Regions from separate parts of the Homo sapiens genome. Here all the other regions are linked to region 2. Evidence: fine-mapped expression QTL. A gene starts in region 2. Each other region holds a variant in brackets. All regions are shown on one strand. Distances are from middle to middle. Region 1 overlaps TRPA1 (transient receptor potential cation channel subfamily A member 1). Region 2 holds the start of MSC (musculin). Region 3 holds the start of LOC124900257 (U8 small nucleolar RNA).

Region 1 (5,000 bases), 210 kb after region 2:
AACTGATATTTTAAATTTTGATTAATGGCTGAAAATCATTTCTTTTCTCTTATTTTGTCTCAGACTTCAAATCATCCCAACACCAGAGAACACTAAATGACAGTGGACAGGAAGACAGTGTACCTTTTGCTCCTGATGATCGTAAGAACAACCTCCTTCCTCTTATTGTGAAGTGCAAGGTGCAAAAAGGAGGCCTGCTGCTTGTTCAGGACTATGTCAGCATTGTGGCTCAGAAGAAGCGCAACGGCTTTGGCGTGGCCTTCCCTTGCAGCAAAGTGAAGTGCAGTGTTCTTTTGAAGAAAAACAGACACAGAAAACGTGGTGACAGTGTCTAATCTGTCTTATTTCACTGCTTAACTGCTTAAAAGACATTAGCGACACTATTTAATACCAAAATACATAGCACTTAAAACTGGTGTTCAGAATCAAGCTTCAAAATAATGAGTTTATAGTTCTAGCATGGTGTGTGTGCATGTGTGGGAAGTGGATCTGTGTGTGTGTGTGTGTGTGTGTGTGTGTGAGAGATAGAGAAAGAGAGAGAGAGAGAGAGAGAGAGAGAGAGAGAGAGAATGAATTCCAAGGCATTTGTTTTGTGTTGCTTTTGCAATGGGATGATTCCACAAGGACAAAGGACAAGCTTTCAGGGTAAAGATGTTGGGTTGAACACAGAAGAAAATCCTCCTGAGATTGATCATTTGTAGAACAGTGGCTTACAGATTTGGGGCTTCACAAGCTTGTAAATGTTTTTTAAAATCAGAGACTGTTATAAGTTTGCCCATTTTTAGTTTCTCCACTTAAAGACTTTTTTTTTTTGAAAAAGGCAACAACAGTCTTCTATCCCCATCATTTTATGAACAAACGTACATTTCAAAAGTTACTCTCCCCAAAGGAAGGAAAGACATAATAGCACAATAAAGGGCAGCATTTCAAATCAATACACTTCAAAATAACACTTATCTTAATGAAAACTCACCCCTGCCTTCATTTCTCTGGACCTACCAGGGAGTAAACGCTTTACCATCAAATTTCATTGGCCTGTGGACCTCGCTGCTCTGTGAGACTGGAGGTTTCCCCAACATTCACCCACCCCTTGGTATTCTCCCAATTCTGTTGCCTTTTGATTCATACTTCACCTCAAGAATCCACTTGCTAAACACCCAACAAAAGGCTGGGAATAGAGCAAGGAAGGTAAAAGGTGTCTAGGAGAGTTTTCTGGCAATGTTGGAAGTTTCTGCTATATTGAGATTTTGGGTAAGCATGAGGACCGCAGTACATACCCCGTCTTCATCCAGGCGATCTGTGCACTTCAAATTAGTATCAAGAATGACCTTCATGGTCTGAGTGTACCCGCCCATGGACGCATGATGCAAAGCTGTCCAGCCATTGTGGTCACTGGTAAAGAGTTAAGAAAAGATGTGTGCATACACTTAACAGATGAAATGCGGGATGGGATGCCACTTGGCTTATTCTAGGTAAATCTGATGACAACAAAAAGCATTATTGAGATCTGGCAACTAAATATTTATAAAACATTTATAATAAATGAGCTAATTCCAAGCTCAATGATCTTAAATGACCTATTTCTAATGTGATTCATACACGTTTTTTACTTAGTGGTTTAAAATATGAAAGTATATAAACACATTACCAAACACTTTGGGGTAGGAGAAGTACGCTTAGCATGTCTGTGTCATACCTAATTTTTTTAAAGCTATAATGAACTGATACACATCAATTTAAATCTTGTTTTATTCTTTCAATGAACACTGTATCAAAATTTTTTTATGAAGTAATGTTAGTCTTTGTGGTCAATAGTTATTGGTAATACTACTAGTAATATGATACATGGCTATAAGATGCTTAGCTTAGTGTCAGTTATTATTCTAAGAGTTTAAATCTAAAAAGCTTCCCTCTTGTGCTCTGAAAAATGCTTACTCAATTGCTTTGAAAAATGTTTATCCTTTTCCACAGAAATTCAAGATGTAAATACAACAAAGCCTTGTCATATTAGCTATCTTTTTTCAAAT[TAGAC/T]AGAAAAAAATTCTTGACACTATTTAATTTCAGTGCTAGTGAGCAGATGTTTTAGGGTGCAAGAGCCATGTTGCTATTTCAGTTATGATGTAATTAAGCAACAACTGTCTGGCCTGGGTCTACTTCGGTCCCCTTTGCAGGTCAGTTGCTTGGTGTTTCTTTGTAAACCAGAAAAAACTGAGCAAAACATTCATTCATGTAGCTGTAGCACCAATTTGCTGGCATCAATATTATGGTAAGGAAATGTGTTTTTGAACATTAGCCTAATAAGCTCTTTGCTACTGCTATGGTAAGATATCAAATGAAAAACCTCTGTAAAACATTTCCAGGTTTTTTCTTTCTTATCACAATATCATTTAATTATGCCACATATTTTATTATACTTACATATTTTAACTTTGTTTCTTGTACTTGAGTTCATTTAAGTATAATAAAATTCAGAAATTTTTACCATCTCCTGTTGTCACTTAAAGGGAACTTTTTATGCCTACCATTCATCAGATTGAATGAAAAGTAGAGTATTTGAACTTGTATGTTTTGTGTGTGTGTGTACGTGCATACACACATACACAACCACAGTTTTGTATCTATATAGGAATATGGCAGCATGATGAGGTAAAATATGAGAAACTATGTTTCAAAGAAAGGTTCTGAGAAAGACTGCACAAAGCCAATTATTCTGTGAACAGAATATTCTTGAACAAGGTTCTTCAACGCTATAAACTTCAAAGTCTTTGTCAGTTGGAAATAATACTGACTTCCCTTTCAGTATTTTTAGAAGTTACATATGTTTTGATGAAAAAATAAATTGGATAAAAGTACTTAGTGAGATATAAAGTTAGACCTCATAATTAAAAATATAATGAAAAGATAGCCTGAAAATGGCTAATTAAAGAAATTATATAAACACTCCAATCATATATCCTCACCTGAGAAACAATGCACCTTTTTTCAGAAGAAGCTGAACTACTTTATCATGTCCATTCTTTGCTGCCAGATGGAGAGGAGTCATTCCATGAAGGTCACCTTCATTCAGAAGCCTCGTATCACTTATGTCTTGTAGGAGCCTCTGACAGGTATTGATACGCCCATAACTTGGAAAAAATTAGGTTTCATATTTTCAAGGCAAATATTAAACAGAAAGAAGACATGTTCATACATTGCTAGACTGACCCTTACCTGGCTGCAAAATGCAGAGGTGATTTCTTATCTTTGCTTTTGGAATGAATGGACACATTAAAGCCAAGTAGGTTATTTACAGAACCAGGGCCCCCCTGTCTACATGCATAATGTAGAGGAGTACACCCATCGTTGTCTTCATCCATTACCAGCTCTTTGATCTGTTGCATCTATAGGAAAAAATTAATATCATACAAATAACTCTGCTATTATGCTAATATGATGGTTTTCAAACTATTCTGTAGGAAAATATTTTCCAACAAGGGTCAATATGTATTCCTTGGGGCCAAAATTGTAAATAACCTAAAGGATTTGAGAGTAATATAAATATGAATGAAGTTGAATGCTCTGTCTTCATTTAGTGTACATTACCATATTAGTGTACATTACTGTATTAAAGGATCTGAGAGATCATGCCAATAGGAAAATGTACTTAACATTTTTAACTCAGCATTTTTCAAATATATTTGATCATGGCCCTTCCCTCTGCCCCTCCTCTTATTTCCTCCCACCCCCAAATAACACCCAACAGCTTCATGTTAATATGTTCTGTTAGGTAAAATGGATGGGATGTAAACATTAGGTTTATTTTATGTTTTATATGTATAGTAAATAAAAAATGAATGATAAATGAGAAGCTTAAGCCTATCAATTAATATTTTGTTATTTTTTAAATATTCAAACACATATATATTTTGATTATTAAATACTGGCAATATTGAAATCTATTGATGATAAAAATATGATGTATTTCACATACATGTGCTAGTCACTCAGTAAGTATTAGCTGGTGAATATAAATATAAAAATAATGCTTTCAACCTCTCCTCAGAAAGTCAAGTATGCTGAGTAATTTTTCTTAATTGATGGTGGAGTATTGATAATTCATTCTTATATTTGGCTTTTCCACTGATATGCAAATCATAATGGTCAAAGAATGAAGAAAATCAAACTAATTAAGGATGTTATCTTTATCATAGATGACTGCATATTAAGTTTCTTTGTAAGTTAAAAAACTCAGTCTCACTACAATTAATTATCATTGTCATAATCATCACCACCACCACCATCACCATGTTGTAACTAAATAGTCAAATATGTCATCTTTATTTTAAAACATTTTTAAAATTCCAGAATCAGTTTATATAATAACAAAAATTATAATAAACAAAATTAGTTTATTTTCTGTTGAACCCAACTCAGTTAATGGCAATCCACAGATATACATTACCTGCATAAATTCAGGTCGCAGATTTTTTAATCCATAAGGTTGCTGTACAGTTAAATGCAGAAAATTACGTCCAAAATTATCTTTTATGTCTACTTGGGCACCTAAAAAAAAACACTATGTAAATATAAATTCTATTCATTTATTTAAAGCAATGTTTACGTGGATTTTCAACTTAGCAAAAAAAAATTTGACTAAAAATATTGTCGACCTTTAGTTTACAGGAAATTGTGTTTAGATGAGAAAACTAAACATATTTAAAATCAGGTTTAACTTACTCTCTGTGTGTGTGTGTGTCTGTATGTGTAAGTGGGGTAGAAAATATGTGATGCATTACATAAATACATGAAGCCTTACCTTTTAAAGCATAAAATGTAAGTATAGACACATTAGAGATCAAGAAAGAAGAAGATAGCAGAGAAGGACACCTCGCTCCTTTGTTATCAGAGGCCCAGGTTAGAATCTAAAACAGGGAAAGTTATAGTACCTACACCACACAGGACTGATACATTGAAAGACAGTTAATTAAATGTTCAGCAAATGCCTGGGATATAACAATTGC
Region 2 (8,205 bases):
GGTAAGGATTGGAGTGTGCTTTTAGCTGGAGTAGCTGCTGTGTGTGTTGTGTGTGTGTGTGTGTGTGTGTATGAGAGACGTGCACCTATGTTAGCCTGAGGAGTGTATGTCTGTCAGGACAGCAGGGGCCTCAAGACTCAGGACTTTTATTAGGCCTCCAGTTATGGCCTTCCAGGAAGCCCGGCGCGGAGAAGCAGCAGAATCATAGAGATTAATAAAGAATGACGTTTGGAAATGGAGTGATCCAAAAGTGATCGCCACCATTCCTCCCGCAATGACCCACCGCCCTGACCAGAGGAGATCAGCCCTTAAAAGTTAACTTCTACAGCCAAACCCTCTTAGTAAAGGGCAACAAAGACCACATCCTGACACCTCCAAGGGGCACACGGTTTTTACAGCGCGTTTTATTATTCATAAAAAAATAAATTTATTTACATATGTTATTTCCTGTGGTAGTGCAGCCTCGGGGCAAGGGCGCGTTCCCTATCGCAGGATCACTTGCTATGGTAAGCCGCCCACCCTGCGCGCTCCTCCGCGCGGGGAAGAACCTGCGCGGCAGGACGTGGTGTTGGAGTTGGGGCGCCCGGAGCGTGGAGTGGGGAGACCTGATGCAGAGAGTCTGGAGTCGGAGCTGGGGGTGCTGCAGGTAGGAGCAGGAGCGGGGCGGAGAGGGAGGCCCGAAGAAGACCCCACACAGGTTGGCGCAGCGGGGCTTGGGGAGGCTTCAGCCCAGAAGTGGAGAGGGTTGACAGACGCCTGCCTGATTAGAAAAAGCCGGGAGCTTGGGAAGGAGACGGGATTGAAGAAGCCACCCGGCAGGGAGGCCGAACGGCCCAGAGCTCTCCGGGTAAAACCCGCCTGCGGTGATCTGGGAAGTGTGTCTCCACCTAGCCCTGCGAGCAGCGGCCTTCCTCCCGCCCGTTAGAAGGGCGCTGTGCTGGAGTACGAACCCGGCCCAGAGAAGCCACTCGCCCTTCTTTGTCACTTAAAACCCTGTCCCGACGCGGATCTCACGTCTAGACCTCTGTCTTTAAAGCGGATGTAGAGCGCGTTCTAACCGTTCCCTAACCATTGTGTCACCGCGAAAGGCCGGGGCTGTGTGGAACCGTCCCGCACGTGTGCGATGAATCTGGCTCCGCTGAGAACGGATCCGTGGGCTGTCTGGCGCGGGCTGGGGCAGCAGCCGAGAGTTAGTCTACAGAGCTAGGGCCCGAGGGTGGACCTGCGTCCGCGTCTCGTCACGAAAGGAAGCTCTTTTTGGAGAGGCAAAACGTGGTCGCCCAGATCCGGCGCAGCTGTAGCCGTGGGCGCTGTGCAGTGACAGCCACACCCGCCACCTGTCACGATCACAGTTCCAGGGAAAGGGGAAGGGTCAAGGAGAATCCAGCGGAAACTTCTTCCCATCTCACGAGCTCTCCCTTCTCTCCGTGGCCCCCAAACACTCGCATTTAACGAATAATCCCATCAAGTGAGTTCCAGTCCGATTTAAGCGGTGGTTCCACATAGTCTGTTGGCTGCGGAAACTTCTTTGGTGTCAGAGTCCGGTCTTCCCGAGACCACGAATGGCCATGTCTGTAAATCAAAAAGAACGTGAGATATTAGAGAGAAACGATTGTCTCAAACCGAAACAGCTCTCCTACGCGAACCCCAGATATTCCTGACTTGGAGTAGCTAAGATTTTATCAGCATTCTGGGAATTTGCATGTCCTCTCTCTGAACTAAGATTTTCATTTTACTGGAGGTTGATAATCCGAGACTTGCCATATCCGTTCACGCTTCTTCCTGGACTTTGCCCGCAGGATAATTTGGTGAAACTCATCTGACTTTGAGGTTCTGTCGTTTAGTTCCCTTCCCCAACACACACACACACACACGCACACACACACACACACACACACACACACACAGTCATCCACTCCAAGCTCCAAGTAGGAACTGGGCTTGGACAGGATTTTTCCCAAGCCGGGAGAGCTGGCAGATCAGAGAGGGACTTTCCAGATAAATCCCATCTGGGGAAACGTTACTATCTTCCACAAGCAATTTTTCTAAAAATGCAAATGCTCTTTTATAGAGCTCGGCCTTCCCTCCTTTAAGAAAGGGCTTGCCGATTCAAACCTGCCCGACTCAGCTGGATTAAGTTGGGCAAGGGAGATTTGCCGTCAGTCTGCAACCTGGTGGCAGATGGAGATGGAACCAAGATTTACCCTGGAAGTAGGATATTAGTCAATGGCTGTCACTGGGGTACAATGTTCAGAACGATGCAAACAGACACGGAGGGTTGATTCTTCTTCAGGGAAATGGCTGGCCACTCCCTTGATTTGGGAGAAACTAAACTGGCCTTCTCGTTCCCAGTCCCAGAACCTCCACCCCTTTCGAATTCTTCCCAACGGGCTGACCCTGCCCGGCGCCCAGGAGCGCCCTGGGTATCTCCTGGCTGCTCTCCCGAATCCTTGCGCGCCGCGCCCCTACCAGGTTCACTGGGTGCACGTAGCCGTTCTCATAGCGGTCCTCCTGCAACAGCTGCCGCAGGTGAGCGATGTAACTGGAAGCCAGCCGGAGCGTGTCCAGCTTGGAGAGCTTAGTGTCGGGGGGCACCCAGGGCAGGCTGGTCTTGAGCCTGGAGAAGGCTTTGCTCAGCACGCGCATCCGGGCACGCTCACGGGCGTTGGCCGCGTTCCGCTGCGACTGCTTGCACTCTGCGGCTGAGCCCTTGGCCGGGAGGGGCTTCTTGCCACCACCGCCCGCGCTACCACCTGCGCCGCCGCCCCCAGCCACACGGGGCCGCTTCCTCTTGCAGCCTTCCGCGCTGCCGGCTGTGCCCAGAGCGCAGCGCTCCTCCTCGCCGTCGGGGTCCTCCTCCTCTGCCGACGAGTTGTCACTGGGCGAGGCGTAGCTGCGCTCTACGCCGCGGAGGGGCGGCCTCTTGGAGGCGGGGACCGGGTACTCCCGCTGCAGCCCCCGAAGCTCCATCTCCTCCGGATCACTCACCGAGCCCGTGGACATCCCGTTGTCCCCCTTGCCCACACGCGTCCTCTTTCCTCCCCCCTGGCCAGTCTCGCTGTCTCCGCCTTCCGCTCCCTGGCGGAGGCGGAGGCCAGAGAGCGCTCCAAGGAAGACTAAAAACCCAGGCCGGGAAGCGCGGGGTGAGAAAGCGAGGTGGGTGGCGAGAGCGTGAGCGCCCCTCTGCTGACCCCGGGGAGCGTGGACTACGAGTTGGCGCCCAAGTCCAGAATCCGCGCGCACCGCGGTAAGCTGCGCCTTTTGAAAAGGCTATCTGTACTCCTTGGAACAAACCACCCCGGGCAAAGAAGAGGGGGTTGTAAAGGGGGCCAAGAGGTGGGGCAGGGGCGTGGAAGGGGTGGGGACCGCTTTTCTGCATGCCGAAGAGCGGTTGGTGGAGGCGGGGGAAGGGGACGTCTCTGCAGAGCCGAGATTTGGGCTCTGAAGCCCGACGGCCCTTCAACATGTCTGCGCAGGATAAGTGAGCTTTCGGGGAGTGAAGGGGCACATCTTGTTCCTACCGACGGTGCTTCTACCCCCAGGTAATCTTAGCAGTGGCAAAGATTACCAGACACTTAGAAACGACGGGATTCCGACCTCTGCTTGCCTGCCAGTCTTTCCAGTAGAACTCAGTTTTCAAGTTAACCATTCATGATGTATGATTGTCTACCCAAGCCTTGCTGGACAAGAGAAAAAGCAGAACAGGCAAACAACATCCAACAATGCACAAGTTACCTCTCATTTTCCTCCTCCTTTTCTTATAATATACCTTCATGGTTTACAAAAATGGTTACAATGGTTCGTTGCCTTTTCAAATAACATCTGTAACTTAATGATATTATCTCCAATTTGCAGAACTTGAAGCTGAGCCGCCTAGATAGACGTTAAGTAAAAGACCCAAACTTATTAGGCTAAGTAGAAAAAAAGATTCAAAATCCGCGTTTTGAAATTCTGGCCCGTCGGTATTCTAGTCAGCTCCGTGCCTCCGGGTCACACATCACTGGATGTTGTAGCTGGTATTTTCCACTATCTTGAGAGTTCCATGCGTGATGTGATTTTGTTTTAATACCACAATGCGTGTGTTGGAGGATCCGGCCCTAAAGCTTTGCATTATAATGTAGGGAATCCTTGCTATTGTATTTAATAGATTGTGTATTGAAGAGCGAGCTCCTGGAAGCAGAATGCTAAGTTAGCACAATCGTCCATTCAAAGTAAAAACGACAAAGGAGCACCCTGAATGATCATGTTCCATTCCAAACAAGACTAAAACATCCTGCTCTTCCACACAAGAAAACACAACAATTTTGCAGTCTCATTATTTCCTAACTCGAAGGTCATCGCAGTTCCTGGTCAGGGGATAAGTACGTCTGTGGATACGGGCCCCAGTGGTCAGAGACTGAGTGCCCGCTGTGTGCCCGTCACTGTACTCGCGGCTTGTGAGCAGCTCACTGAGTAATAAAACCCGTATGAGTTTGGCATATGGTTACCCCATTTTACAATGATGAAACTGAGTCGTCACACAGGCTTAGGTGTTCACTTGTTCTTTTCCTGAAAGTCCACAGGCTCCCAAGCTGAGCAAGGTGCAAGGGGACCTATGTGGAGTCAGTCCAGGACAGAGCTGGCAGAGATAGCTGGGCCAGCCTGGCTCCCGCCAGTTCGTACAGCAGAACAAATGCGTCCAGCTCGATGGCTGAAGTGCTGCAACAGGTGGCTGGCAGAGGCTGACTTCATCACTCAGGCATCATTCCACCTTAGTCTCCCAGGCCACGCTACCCTTAGCAGGGGCGTTTTGGGGCCGGGGGAATGTTTCACATAACCCCTCCGGCTCACCCACATTTGCAAAGGTTTTCTCCCTGTACAAGTTGTCTTTTGGTTGGGGGCAGGGGGTGGGCTGGTTCTGGGACAATGTGAATAAAAAGATCATTTGCCCTCAGCTCTCTCTAGGGTAGGGAAATGCAGGGAATATTTGACAGAGTGTAGAAATCTTTCCTGGAGCGTTTGAACTTGAACTTGACTCTAGGATCGCCTTGCCAGGTGAAGGAGAGGAGAGCGACAAAGAGGGGCAAAGAGATGGACCGAGGAGAGCCAGGCTAGCTCTCTGCAACGACTATTGATGACTTGAAGCTATCAGTATAAATATATAGTCTCACACATTAGGGGCAGGCGAATAGGTTTTTAAAATCTGAATTGTTTATACAGGTGCAGAACAAAGTCTTTCTTTAGAAAAGATTAATGGTGAGGAGAGCGCTAGATTTCTCTAAACAGTCACAAAAACTATACCCAGCCTCAACGCTGAGGAGGTCATGGCCAGTTTCTTTATTTCTTGAAGAAATGGTCTGACCCCACCAGTTCGGGCTTATTTTTCACAGCACTCGCCTTTCCCTCCCTGTCTTCTTTCTCTGTCTTCCCCTCCCTCCCTACTTCCCTCCCTTTCTCTTCTACTCCATCTCCTCACCCTCCCTCTGTTCGCTTTCAAGAAAGTCAGCTATTTTATTTTGTTTGTTTCATCATCTTTCATTTAACCTCCATTTCTTTCATTTTTGTGAAATTAAGTTATATTTTCACTTGTAACTCTGTTTTCAAGTTGCAGACTGGTAATGAAGGTTAGGAAATGTACCTTATATGCATTTTTTATAAGCATATAACTGCAGTTTGCTTTAACATGTTTGTAATATCTGGCATTTGGTCACCTCCTTCCACTTTCAAAGTGCTATTACTTTTTCTTCTCCTTGGATGATTACAACAGCTTCTCGAGCTGAACAGTGTAAGTATAACTCTCTCTTTTGAAAGCCCAGTGTTTTTCATGGTTTTGACAAGTGACATACTGAAATGAATAATACAGCCTTTATTTTTATCTTATAAACACACTGAAATCAATTCCTATTTGCTTATGCTTTACAAACTCTTAGATGTGAAACAGGTATAGACTGTTTGTGTGTACATCAATGGTCTTGAAATTCTTTAGTGACATTTAAAAAATATTCAATGGGGTGAGTAGGGCTTAAGTTGCATTATAAAACAAAATATTTAATAATTCTTTTAATATTACCTTTAATATTTCTTCATCCTGGCTTCCGTGCTTGCTGGATATATGACTTCTGGAATTTGCATTTTTTGAGCCCTAGTTTTCTAATCTATAAAATGGATTATCTCTCTGAGCGGAAGAGAAAGTATATGAGCAGTTGGCTAGGTCAGAGCCTGGTACATGGGAGAAGATCAGTAAATGCTAGTTAGTATTATGAATTGCCTTGCCCAATATCACACAGCTAGTAAAAGTTAGGGCAATGACCTGACCCAAGTTTTGTACTCCAGGGCCTATTCTGGGTTTCAGATAGTACCAGGGTCTTTCATTTGCTTTGACTACAGGCTGCTAGGGTCTGAAGTACATGGTCTCATCACATGACATTTTTCACAGGTCCCATGAGGGACTTCACTGAGGGAAAAATGGATGGGACGTCGTTAGAAATTTTCTTTTCGTCCCCCAAATTCTCTCACCCTAAAATTGCAGTGCTTTTCCAAGCCTTACTTTCCCTACTGGCATAAAGGATTAAGCCAGAAATCCTGCTGGTGGTGTGGTGTAGGTCAAAGGAGCATGCCCAGGTGGAACACAGATCAGTGCCTAACAGATTGAAACATTTAACAATGCAGGCTTGGTTTGTTTTTTAAAAAGGGAGCCATGAGATGGGATGATAATTACACATCATAGAAAAAAGGCCATTTGTTGCCACTTCCTTCCTCCAACAGCATATTAAGTAATGGGTGAGAAACTCTAGAACTGGGTAGGTCATGTGGACTTAGGACTCAGGAAGAGCAAAGGCTTCCTCTGTCCTCTGTGAAGGCCATGCCAAAACTATGTAGTGAGTAGGTACTTAAGAAACAGCAGTGGGACCAACCCACAGCCTCCTGTTGCCTGGAGGAATTGCCATACCTTCGGCCAATTGCCTATACTTTTGATCTAGGAAAATGAATAATCTAGATCAGCACTGGCCAATATGGAAGCCATTAGCCACATTAGGCTATTGAGCACTTGAAATGTGGCTATTCAGGTACTATAGTGTAAAATGCATAACCAGTATTGAAAACTTACTATGAATAAAAGAATATAAAAGCTCTCATTAATATTTTAAAATATAAATTTATGTCAATCTGTGAGGACATTTTGGATCTATTAGGTTAAATGAAATATATTACAAAAATTAATTTCACCATTTAAAATTATTATCATATGGTTACTAAAAATGTAGAATTAAATATACCGGTCCCATTATATTTCTATTGGACAACTCAGGGATTAATCTCATGGATTAACTATACCCCTATGGACTGAGTATCTACTGTTGGTTGTGGCAAGGTGTTGGTGAGACCCACTCTCACCCACTGGGAGGGCACATTCTTGTGGAAATAAGCTTCTCTGTATTATCCAGACTGCGTCTTACCACGTGTATTCAACCTCCTGTCTATAACACACCCCACCAGACACACACACGTGCTGGGAAAATGAACGCTCCTCCTCAGTGGTGTGTTAGTCACATGGAATGCTAGTCCCAGTGTGTGTTGGCCACGTGGCATGCTAGTCACATGGGGAGCCAGTCAGGTGGGGACAGGTCACGTGTAAGACCCAGGGTTAGGTCTGGATAACCCAAGGCCTGTCCCTTGTCTGCACAAAGCCTTGGGCTCTGCTCCAGGCTCAGGGCAGCCTCTGTCCTGGTGTTGTGCAGGATGCCACCACTCTTCAGACCAGGAAAGGAAGAAAACTCCCTTCACCCGGGCTCTACCAGCCATCAGGTTGGGCATCCATGGAAATAGTCAAAGCCTACATGTGGAGTCCTTTGTCATCCACAACACAAACAGGCCTCTGCTGCTGGTTTATTTATCTAAGGATTGCAGCAAGATTTTTTACCCTTCCCTCCGAAAGTCATGAGGCCTTAGCATGGAGAAGCCAGTGCCTGGATGGTTTGTGGAGGTTGAAGGTGGAAAAGCCAGGCTTAACAAATAAACAATGAAAAATGGGGCTGGGGGTAGGCTGGGGAGAGGGAAAGCGATAAGACTCAGCCTTTCAGGAGAAAAGAAAAACGCCCTCATTGATTGTCTTGACAACAAAAACTGTAGGCAGCTTCTGCAGGAAATTTTTTTTAAACAATATCTCTAGATTTTAGGGAGCAGGTGCTGAGGCTTAACTGTCCTGGGAACCCCAAGTTCCAACTG
Region 3 (11,473 bases), 27 kb before region 2:
CAGATGTCAACCCATTTCCTTTCCTTCTCTAAGCCATGCTGTTTGTTATCACTTTACATTGCCCTTCCGTTCACCATCCTCACTGGGTGACAGCTCCTTTATGTCGGGCACACGTTCTATTCCTTTTGATATTTCTCATGTTAAGCATAGTACCTTATATCTAATTGCTGGGTCAAGATGCATGCTGAATGAATAAATAAAATGAGTGGCTCATTGCAAAACCTTTTTGAAGTGCAGATTGAATTTGGTTGATTTTTGCTTTAAAGGGTTGAGAAACACAGTCCACAGGAGGAGTCAACACGAATGACTCTAGGTCCAACCCCATAGCCTCGCCTCCCCTTTCCTTTCCTGCATTCACCTCGTCCCTGAACTTGGGATCACAGAGCTGATGAAAGTTCACGTCCTTAGAACTACCAAAGTAGCTGCCCTGATTGCATGGAATGTTCTCACACTTCTCTCACTTTACTCACGAAGCCCTTTTTCTTTCATGCCGGGTGTGAAATCCATACTCCCCAACAATGCTTCCCAGGACTAATGAGACAAGGGGTAAAGGAGAAATGCTAAAAGCTATAAAGTTCCAGCCTTTGAGGGGGAGCAGCAGCATGAGTGACTGGGAGTGCAGGCTCTGGAGTGAAACACTGAGCTCAGGCAAAGGTGCTGCCACTGACTTGCTGCTGTGTCATTTGGGGCAAGTGACTGAAGGTCTCTAAGCAGCAATCTTTTCAAGTGTACCCATCCCATAGGGTTGTTCTGAGAGCTCATGCCTCTAGGCTTAGGGTCTGGTACAATATAACACTCAAGGAATATTAGCTAGTACTATTAATAAGACAGAAAATAGGAAGACAAGTAGTCAAACAGAAAGGGAGGAGAAGAGTGACTTTTAAAATCTGTCTCAGGTTTCAAGCCCCCAACTTACAGTGATCTTATGAAGAAACATACCTTCGGAGTTTTGTGCATGGATACAGCCATGTCTATGAGCCTTTCTTTGAAAACTCATTGAAATTTGGGATCAGGAAGCAAAAACTATAGTCCTTCATCTATTAAACCAGGTAAAAACATACACCCTGTGATTTTTAAGGGATTTAAGGGCAACTATTCAGGTAAAACCAGCCATTTCTTGTTTTATGGAAATGGCTCATAAACACTTGGGCCATAGTCTTTGAACTGAAGCATGTCAGATATCCAGTGATTAATGTTCATAGAAATTATTAATTGCAAGACAGAGGCACTTAACAAATATTGAGTCTGAAGAATATTACTGATGATTTCTTCAGCGGTGCAAAGAGTGAGTGGGACGAGGAGAGGGCACAGCAAGCCACGGACCCATGAAGAGATAAGTGTGAAGATAAGATTGGCCAGTTTCCTTCATTGCCAATTCTTCTTTTCCTCATGACTGATATACTTCTTTACCCATTTGGCTAGATTTCCCAATAACTTCTTTGATAAGCAAATATGACATTTTCTCTTCCTTAGTGCCCCTCTGAACTAAGAGCTATGCACAAAAGCAAGGTTCTTTGGGGAGAAATCCTCTGGAGAAGGCAGTGAAGTGAAGTAGTCAAAGCATGAACATGAAGTAAGGTAGCCTGGGTTTAAATCTCAACTCTAGCACTCAGCAGTTCCAGGCTCTTGGGCCTTTTTTTTTTTTTTTCTTTTTTTTTGACAGAGTCTCGTTCTGTCACCCAGGCTGGATTGCAGTGGCGCAATCTCAGCTCACTGCAACCTCTGCCTCTCGGGTTCAAGCAATCCTCCTGCCTCAGACTTCTAAGTAAGTAACTGAGATTACAGGCGTGCCACCAGGACTGGCTAATTTTTTTGTTTGTTTGTTTGTTTTTGAGACGGAGTCTCGCTCTGTCACCCAGGCTCAAGTGCAGTGGCGCGATCTCGGCTCACTGCAAGCTCCGCCTCCCGGGTTCGCGCCATTCTCCTGTCTCAGCCTCACGAGGACCTGGGACTACAGGCGCCTGCCACCATGCCTGGCTAATTTTTTATATTTTTAGTAGAGACGGGGTTTCACCATGTTGGGCAGGTTTGTCTTGAACTTCTGACCTCAAGTGATCCACCCGCCTCGGCCTCCCAAAGTGCTGGGATTACAGACGTGAGCCACCACGCCCAGCCCTTGGCATTTAATTTAACTTCCCAGAATCTTGTTTTATTTCATTGTGAAATGTGGATAAATATTTTTCACCCCAGAAAGTTATTGTAAGAATTCAATGAAAATAACCTATGAAACAACTTCAGCATGGTTCTAGCATTCAGTAATTACTATTCTTAATTGTTATTTACCTGCTTGTATATATATTAAAACCAAGTACTTGATTCTAATTATTATTTTCATTATTTTAACTATTATGATTTTCATAATTATATATGTATGTATATTTTTAACAAAAGATTTTTAATTAACCAAAGTTACACTTGTGGATGATTCTCAATGCTCCATGATAATACACTTATTTTTAAATTTATTCTTTTCTTCTTCAGAAAGAATCAGGTAGGAGCAAACAGAATGTTGCAAATCCTGATTATGCAGAGAATTAATCACATATCATGTAAACTCTAGTCATCGTGAACTCTGCCCTCCAAAAGAAGGAACAGGTAAGGATGATCTCACCTGTGGATAATGCATCTCTTTTAAATGCTCAACAGAATGAGCAAGTCCTTCCACAGTCCATCTTTTCCTAAAACAATTTAGCCACTCTAGGGATCATTAAAGCCGCACCAACATCCTTCCAATTTGGCAATAACCAATGGGAAAATCCACCTAGTTATTCTCAGGGAGCAAACCAGTTGACCAAGTTAGAGCTGGGTCTGACTTGTCCAATGAGCAATTCACTCTTCAGCAATTCCTTTTGAAGAGAGAAAGTTATTGTGTGGAATTGCTAGAGTTGTTGTGATACACTGTGTCTCTGCCCTTTTGAAAGTAGAAGCACTGCAGGTCACTCACAAGCCACTGGGCAAATACCCAATGGCCCTTGAGAGTTATTCAGTGCCCTTGACTAGAAGAGTTGGCATTGGCTTCTGGGTATTAATCTTAGGTAAGGAGGAAAGGTATTGAGAAAATGAGAATAAAATGAAGGAAGCTTGAATTTAGCATATCTGCCTTTATAAGAATTGCTGTACATGTTTGTCTTAGCTCAGGTTGTTATAACGAAATACCACAGATTGGGTGTCTAAAACAACAGACATCTGGAGACTTGACAGTCTGAGATCAAGCATGGTCAGGTTCTAGTAAGGGCTCTCTTTCTAGTTTTCTCACACGACAGAGAGAGAGAAGGGCATAGAAGAGAAGACAGAGAGAGAGAGAGCTGTCATGTTCCTCCTTCTAAGAGCATTAAGTTCATAATGATGGCTCCACCCTCATGACCTAATCACCTCCCAAAGGCCTTAGCTCAAAATACCATCACATTGGGGATTAGGGCTTCAATATACAAATTTTGGGTGGGTAAAAGCATTTAGTCTATAGTAATATTACCCTTCCTTCCTCACTCTTCCCTAACCAGAGTGAACACTCCTGAGGACAGAGAGCATATCTGGTGCTAAGCACCTCAGAAGCAGGTGCTCAATACGTGTTCATTTAATTGTTGACTTGATTTACTACGGCACCAAAATACAACTTTTAGAGAGGACACAGGCACCTGTTTCTGCTCAGCCTTCAGAGGGGATTTTCTTTGTGAAAGTCTGCTTCTCCCAACTGAAGTCAGGAAAAAGGCATGTGAGCATTTTGTGAGATAAGAATCCATCCCAAGGAGAATGTCTCAACTGCACATAGAGTGTTTACTGGGGATAAATGAAACAAGAAAAAGAAAAGACAAATTAATGATATCTGTCTACAAAATTCACTACCAAATGATCACTTTCAACTTTTGTTCTAGAAGCACAGTATATAATATTTATGAATGGAAAATCTTTATGAAATATACGTCAATAAAGGAAAGCTTTCTTTCCCTTTTCCATATACCCCACAATTTTCCCCAATAACACAGAAGAAGTAAGCAGTGATTAAGTTGGTGCAGTTCTCATGCCCCATCAGAATTCACAGATAGAGAGCGTTGTTGCATGTTCAGTGCCAAAACTGATGTTAAGCTTGAAAGTGACATTAATGATTCTATAAGTTAACACATTCCCCCCAAGTAGAAAAAGCCAGCAGGAGAAGAGGTAGTGAATTCCAAACTTCTTTAATTTTAAATTTGCCATTCAGCTTAAAAACCAAAAATATTAATAGTAACTTTAGTGTTCTTTGTGTTTCTGTCCTGAATTGCACCCATTTCTTGCCACCAACCTGAATTTGGTGCTCTATTCCTATGCACTTTTTTTCCACTTTTGCTACATATGAGTGTATCTCCAAGCAACATATGGCATTTCTTTGCCTGTGTTTAAATTCTCTATACATAGCATTATTATGTTGTATGTTTCTGAAACTTATTCCTTGCTGCATAACAATAAAAATATATTTGCTTACAGTAAAATTACAAATTTCTGTTCCTCAAAGAATACCATTCAAAAAGGTGATGAATTGATAGAAGGGGAAAGAACAGGCATCAGAAGAGGGGAAGATATTTGTAAAACTCATACCTAATAAACGTTCCCCATCCAGAAACCAAACTCACAATTTACATCAGGTGAAAACTTGACTCTGTGGTATTCACTTCTCAGGCCTCTGTACATATGCAGCCTAGGATGTTCCTAGTGATAATGTCATTCATGCTAGACCCACAAAACTTTTACTGTCACAATACAACTGCTCAGTAACAAGGACAGATCAGAAATTGAAATTGAGTTCC[G/A]ATAGCTTGTTTGGAGACCACACAGAAAATTTATTTTCTGTGTCAAAAAATCCAACTTCACCAACCCTAGGGAGATTCAACAAGCTAGATGCAACAGAAGAAAAGAAAAAGAAACTGTGAGGTGGGGTGAGTAACTGGTGGTGACTGATGGGCTTTAAAACTAAGACTACATAGCCAAGCCCCAGAATCCTTGGTAACCATGTAACTCGAGGCAATAGGATGGCCTATTGTGGTAGGTGGAATGGGGGCCCCCAAGAAATGTTACATCCTACTCCCTGGACCTTGTACATGTGAACTTGTTTGGTAAAAAAAGTCTTCTTTGCTGATATAATTAAATTATGGATATCAAGATGAGATCATCCTAGATTATCCAGGTGGGCCTTAAATCTGATGACAAGTGTCTTACAAAAGACAGCAGCCACGTGGAGATGGAGGCAGAGAGTGGAATTGTGCAGCCAGAAGCCAGGGAATGCTTGGGGCCACCAAAAGCTGAAAGAAACAGAAGGCCCCTCCTCAAGAGCTGTCAGGAGAAGCTCGGCCCTGCTGACATTTGATTTCAGATTCTAGCCTCTAGGACTATGAGAGAGAAATAAATTTCTGTTATTTTAAGCCACCGAGTTTATAATAATTTGTAACAGTCCTAGGAAACAAATACACCTTTATTCCATCAGAGAGGCAAAGTATTTTTGTTGTCTAGGATTTCTTTTGATGAGGCAATTTCCAGTGTTTAAAATAAGCCGAGCTCCTCTGTTCTCTGTCAAATACCCAAACTGCTGCTGAACTATGGAAATCTTCTTCAAGGCACATTTTCCTTCAGCCTCCCAAACAGGGAAGCAAATTTGAGAAATTAATAGAACTTCACACCCAGTGGGTAGATATCCCAAAGTTAATTTAATTGGGGCCCACGACGAAAGAAATTTAAAGGCCATTTTAATTTTGCTAGTTTAACATGAACATATGTGCAAAGCTACAAAATTGAGATAAGATGCAACAACGGTACGAGGAGAGATTAAAGAGATTGACAGTGAAATGTGTGAAGAACAATTAAATTAAGTCAATAAAAATGGAAAATAATGTGCTTGTCAACCCAAAAATCCTGGGCTGCATTAGTAAGAATGTAATAAACAGAGCAAAGGAGGCAGTAGGCAGGGTCTGTTGTACCTGATGCTGTTGCTCCTTGAGAATGGCATCTGCAAATTTGAGCACATCCAAGGGAGGGCAACTAGGACTCTAGAGAGTGAGTGTAATGATGAATAAAGATCAGATGAAAGACTTGATGGTTCTCAGCTTGGAAAATATCCGTAGGATGAATGTGATGGTGTCTTCATGCCTTCAAATGATCATCATAGGGATTACATTGGGCTCTGGCAAGGAATGCTGAGCCTGCAAAAGGGACTAACTAGAAGTGGCCAGGGCAGGAGGAAGAAATCAAGAAGGTGCCATCAGGCAAGCCAAGGGACAGTTCCAAGCCTGGGCCTGGCAGTGTGAGTGGAGAAAACACCCATAGCAACCTGTGAACTGGCAGTCCCCACAGCAGTACAAACTGAGATGCAAGGAGGGAGAAACAGGGTTTTTGTAGAAAGGGAGAAATCCTTGAAGACCCACATTTACACTCTGTGCTTTGTCTCATATCAATACAGTCTTAATTTTAGCTAATGACCAGTCAACTGGAAAATAACCCAATGCACCTGGCTTGTGCCATCACTCAGTGGTTTCTAAATGTTCACCTCCTGCCGCCCACCTGTGATGGCCATTAGGGAGAAAAACTGAAGCCACAATAGTCATCACATCGCCCCTACATTTTTTCCTGAATGTTAGAATGCACTTTATTTTTTGAAATTATGATGATAGTAGTTTGAAACTAATTATTTTAAATGTCTAATTTGGCAAAACAAAAATAATTGAAATCACCAATATCATTTGTAATATTTTTGGAATTTTCTTCTGGGAAATCAAAAAGTCTGGAAACCATGGCTCCAGATTACACCAAAAGGAAACATAAGATTAAAACTGTATTCAAAAACAAAAACCTCAAAATTCTTGTCAAAGAGCCCTTTTCCTAAGAAATAAGCAAGGAAGAAAACATGGGGTCTGGGCTGTTTAGATGTTACTTATAGTTTGAAAACTTCCAAAAATTCATGTGCACATTTTTGTTAATATAGGATTCAGAGTTGTGTGTCTGTGTACCTATGTATGTATGTATATAGCTGATGGTGGGACAATGAAGCAATTAAAATCTGTACATCGTAATAACAACCATAGTATTATACAAACAGTTTCCCCAAATTACTACAGTTCTTTCTCATGGACACACCTACATTCCTGTGATAACACTATGGCCACAAGAGGGCAATATACATTCAGGTTACTAATGCCTGTCAAGAGTTTTGCCTCAAATCAGATTAAGTCAACTAGTCTTTGCTGTTCTTTGCTCCAAGGGCAAGAAAACATGTTAAAAATATTGTCTTTGTGAGGGGTGGAGCCAAGATGGCCGAATAGGAACAGCTCCAGTCTACAGCTCCCAGCATGAGAGACACAGAAGACGGGTGATTTCTGCATTTCCAACTGAGGTACTGGGTTCATCTCACTGGGGAGTGTTGGAGAGTGGGTGCAGGACAGTGGGTGCAGTGCACCGAGCATGAGCCAAAGCAGAGAGAAGCATCACCTCACCCGGGAAGCACAATGGGTTAAGGAATTCCCTTTCCTACTCAAAGAAAGGGGTGACAGAGGGCACCTGGAAAATTGGGTCACTCCCACCCTAATACTGCGCTTTTCCAATGGTCTTAGCAAACGGCACACCAGGAGATTATATCCTGCACCTGGCTCAGAGGGTCCTACACCCACAGAGCCTCTCTGATTGCTGGCACAGCAGTCTGAGATCAAACTACAAGGCGTCAGCGAGGCTGGAGGAGGGGCGCCCACCATTGCCGAGGCTTGAGTAGGTAAACAAAGCGGCTGGGAAGCTCGAACTGGGTGGAGCCCACCGCAGCTCAAGGAGGCCTGCTTGCCTCTCTAGACTCCACCTTTGGGGGCAGGGCATAACCATACAAAAGGCAGCAGAATCCTCTGCAGACTTAAATGTCCCTGTCTGACAGCTTTGAAGAGAGTAGTGGTTATCCCAGCACACAGCTGGAGATCTGAGAGTGGACAGACTGCCTCCTCAAGTGGGTCCCTGACCCCCGAGTAGCCTAACTGGGAGGCACCCCCCAGTAGGGGCTGACTGACACCTCACATGGCCAGGTACTCCTCTGAGACAAAACTTCCAGAGGAAAGATTAGGCAGCAACATTTGCTGTTCACCAATATCCCCTGTTCTGCAGCCTCTGCTGCTGATACCCAGGCAAACAGGGTCTGGAGTGGACCTCCAGCAAATACCAACAGACCTGCAGCTGAGGGTCCTGACTGTTAGAAGGAAAACTAGCAAGCAGAAAGGACATCCACACCAAAACCCCATCTGTACATCACCATCATCAAAGACCAAAGGTAGATAAAAACCACAAAGATGGGGAAAAAACAGAGCAGAAAAACTGGAAACTCTAAAATTCAGAGCACCTCCTCTCCTCCAAAGGAACACAGCTCCTCACCAGCAACAGAACAAAGCTGGATGGAGAATGACTTTAATGAGTTGAGAGAAGAAGGCTTCAGACGATCAAACTACTCCAAGCTAAAGGAGGATGTTCGAACCCATGGCAAAGAAGTTAAAAACCTTGAAAAAAATTAGACGAATGGCTAACTAGAATAACCAATGCAGAGAATTCCTTAAAGGACCTGATGGAGCTGAAAACCAAGGCACGAGAACTACGTGACGAATGCACAAGCCTCAGTAGCCAATTCGATCAACTCGAAGAAAGGGTATCAGTGATGGAAGATCAAATGAATGACATGAAACGAGAAGAGAACTTTAGAGAAAAAAGAATAAAAAGAAACGAAAAAAGCCTCCAAGAAATATGGGACTATGTGAAAAGACCAAATCTACGTCTGATTGGTGTACCTGAAAGTGATGAGGAGAATGGAACCAAGTTGGAAAACACTCTGCAGGATATTACCCAGGAGAACTTCCCCAATCTAGCAAGGCAGGCCAACATTCAAATTCAGGAAATACAGAGAACGCCACAAAGATACTCCTTGAGAAGAGCAACTCCAAGACACATAATTGTCAAATTCACCAAAGTTGAAATGAAGAAAAAATTATTAAGGGCAGCCAGAGAGAAAGGTTGGGTTACCCACAAAGGGAAGCCCATCAGACTAACAGCGGATCTCTCGGCAGAAACTCTACAAGCCAGAAGAGAGTAGGGGCCAATATTCAACATTCTTAAAGAAAAGAATTTTCAACCCAGAATTTCATAACCAGCCAAACTAAGCTTCATAAGTGAAGGAGAAATAAAATCCTTTACAGACAAGCAAATGCTGAGAGATTTTGTCACCACCAGGCCTGCCCTACAAGAGCTCCTGAAGGAAGCACTAAACATGGAAAGGAACAACCGGTACCAGCCGCTGCAAAAACATGCCAAATTGTAAAGGCCATTGAGGCTAGGAAGAAACTGCATCAACTAACGAACAAACTAACCAGCTAACATCATAATGACAGGATCAAATTCACACATAACAACATTAACCTTGAATGTAAATGGGCTAAATGCTCCAATTAAAAGACACAGACTGGCAAATTGGGTAAAGAGTCAAGACCCATCAGTGGGCTGTATTCAGGAAACCCATGCCATGTGCAGAGACACAAATAGGCTCAAAATAAAGGGATGGAGGAAGATCTACCAAGAAATGGAAAACAAAAAAAGGCAGGGGTTGCAATCCTAGTCTGTGATAAAACAGACTTTAAACCAACAAAGATCAAAAGAGACAAAGAAGGCCATTACATAATGGTAAAGGGATCAATTCAACAAGAAGAGCTAACTATCCTAAATACATATGCGCCCAATACAGGAGCACCCAGATTCATAAAGCAAGTCCTTATAGAACTACAAAGAGACTTAGACTCCCACACAATAATAATGGGAGACTTTAACACCCCACTGTCAACATTAGACAGATCAACGACACAGAAAGTTAACAAGGATATCCAGGAATTGAACTCAGCTGCACCAAGTGGACCTAATAGACATCTACAGAACTCTCCACCCCAAATCAACAGAATATACATTCTTCTCAAAACCACACCACACCTATTCCAAAATTGTCCACAGAGTTGGAAGTAAAGCACTCCTCAGCAAATGTAAAAGAACAGAAATTATAACAAACTGTTTCACAGACCGCAGTGCAGTCAAACTAGAACTCAGTATTCAGAAACTCACTCAAAACCGCTCAACTACATGAAACTGAACAACCTGCTCCTGAATGACTACTGGGTACATAACAAAATGAAGGCAGAAATAAAGATGTTCTTTGAAATCAACGAGAACAAAGACACAACATACCAGAGTCTTTGGGACACATTTAAAGCAGTGTGTAGAGGGAAATTTATAGCTCTAAATGCCCACAAGAGAAAGCAGGAAAGATCTAAAATTGACACCCTAACATCACAATTAAAAGAACTAGAGAAGCAAGAGCAAACACATTCAAAAGCTAGCAGAAGGCAAGAAATAACTAAGATCAGAGCAGAACTGAAGGAAATAGACACACAAAAAACCCTTCAAAAAATCAGTGAACCCTGGAGCTGGTTTTTTGAAAAGATCAACAAAATTGATAGACCGCTAGCAAGGCTAATAAAGAAGAAAAGAGAGAAGAATCAAATAGATGCAATAAAAAATGATAAAGGGGATATGACCACCGATCCCACAGAAATACAAACTACCATCAGAGAATACTATAAACACCTCTATGCAAATAAACTAGAAAATCTAGAAGAAATGGATAAATTCCTCGACACATACACCCTCCCAAGACTAAACCAGGAAGAAGTTGAATCTCTGAATAGACCAATAACAGACTCTGAAAATGAGGCAATCATTAATAGCTTACCAACCAAAAAAAGTCCAGGACCAGATGGATTCACAGCCGAATTCTACCAGAGGTACAAGGAGGAGCTGGTACCATTTCTTCTGAAACTATTCCAATCAATAGAAAAAGAGGGAATCCTCCCTAACTCATTTTATGAGGCCAGCATGATCCTGATACCAAAGCCTGGCAGAGACACAACCAAAAAAGAGAATTTTAGACCAATATCCCTGATGAGCATCGATGCAAAAATCCTCAATAAAATACTGGCAAACCAAATCCAGCGGCACATCAAAAAGCTTATCCACCATGATCAAGTGGGCTTCATCCCTGGGATGCAAGGCTGGTTCAACCTACGCAAATCAGTAAATGTAATCCAGCCTATAAACAGAACCAACGTCAAAAACCACATGATTATCTCAATAGATGCAGAAAAGGCCTTTGACAAAATTCAACAACACTTCATGGTACAAACTCTCAATAAATTAGGTATTGATAGGATGTATCTCAAAATAATAAGAGCTATCTATGACAAACCCACAGCCAATATCATACTGAATGGGCAAAAACTGGAAGCATTCCCTTTGAAAACTGGCACAAGAAAGGGATGCCCTCTCTCACCACTCCTATTCAACATAGTGTTGGAAGTTCTGGCCAGGGCAATCAGGCAGAAGAAGGAAATAAAGGGTATTCAATTAGGAAAAGTGGAAGTCAAATTGTCCCTATTTGCAGATGACATGATTG

The links.
Region 1: its variant is fine-mapped to the expression of MSC in whole blood (INTERVAL, PIP 0.97).
Region 3: its variant is fine-mapped to the expression of MSC in whole blood (TOPMed, PIP above 0.99).

The regions. Positions count from the first base shown.
Region 1 is chr8:72,052,476-72,057,475 of GRCh38, forward strand. TRPA1 (transient receptor potential cation channel subfamily A member 1) reads right to left here. Exons shown (of 27, transcript NM_007332.3): 10 at 4,442-4,542; 11 at 3,211-3,380; 12 at 2,961-3,125; 13 at 1,278-1,392; 14 at 124-290. MSC-AS1 (MSC antisense RNA 1) reads left to right here. Exons shown (of 5, transcript NR_033652.1): 5 at 64-3,837. Among named protein-coding and RNA genes, the nearest start is that of TRPA1, 21 kb to the right of the region's middle. The variant TAGAC/T (reference allele first, on the strand shown) is at 2,028.
Region 2 is chr8:71,841,176-71,849,380 of GRCh38, forward strand. It overlaps MSC (musculin), which reads right to left and starts at 3,237. Exons shown (of 2, transcript NM_005098.4): 1 at 2,470-3,237; 2 at 385-1,572. The coding sequence starts at 3,003. The coding sequence ends at 1,486. MSC-AS1 (MSC antisense RNA 1) reads left to right here and starts at 1,948. Exons shown (of 5, transcript NR_033652.1): 1 at 1,948-2,529; 2 at 3,054-3,247. RefSeq lists an enhancer at 30-890 and silencers at 2,586-2,855, 4,695-4,744.
Region 3 is chr8:71,813,008-71,824,480 of GRCh38, forward strand. It overlaps LOC124900257 (U8 small nucleolar RNA), which reads right to left and starts at 2,618; the gene lies at 2,487-2,618. The variant G/A (reference allele first, on the strand shown) is at 4,782.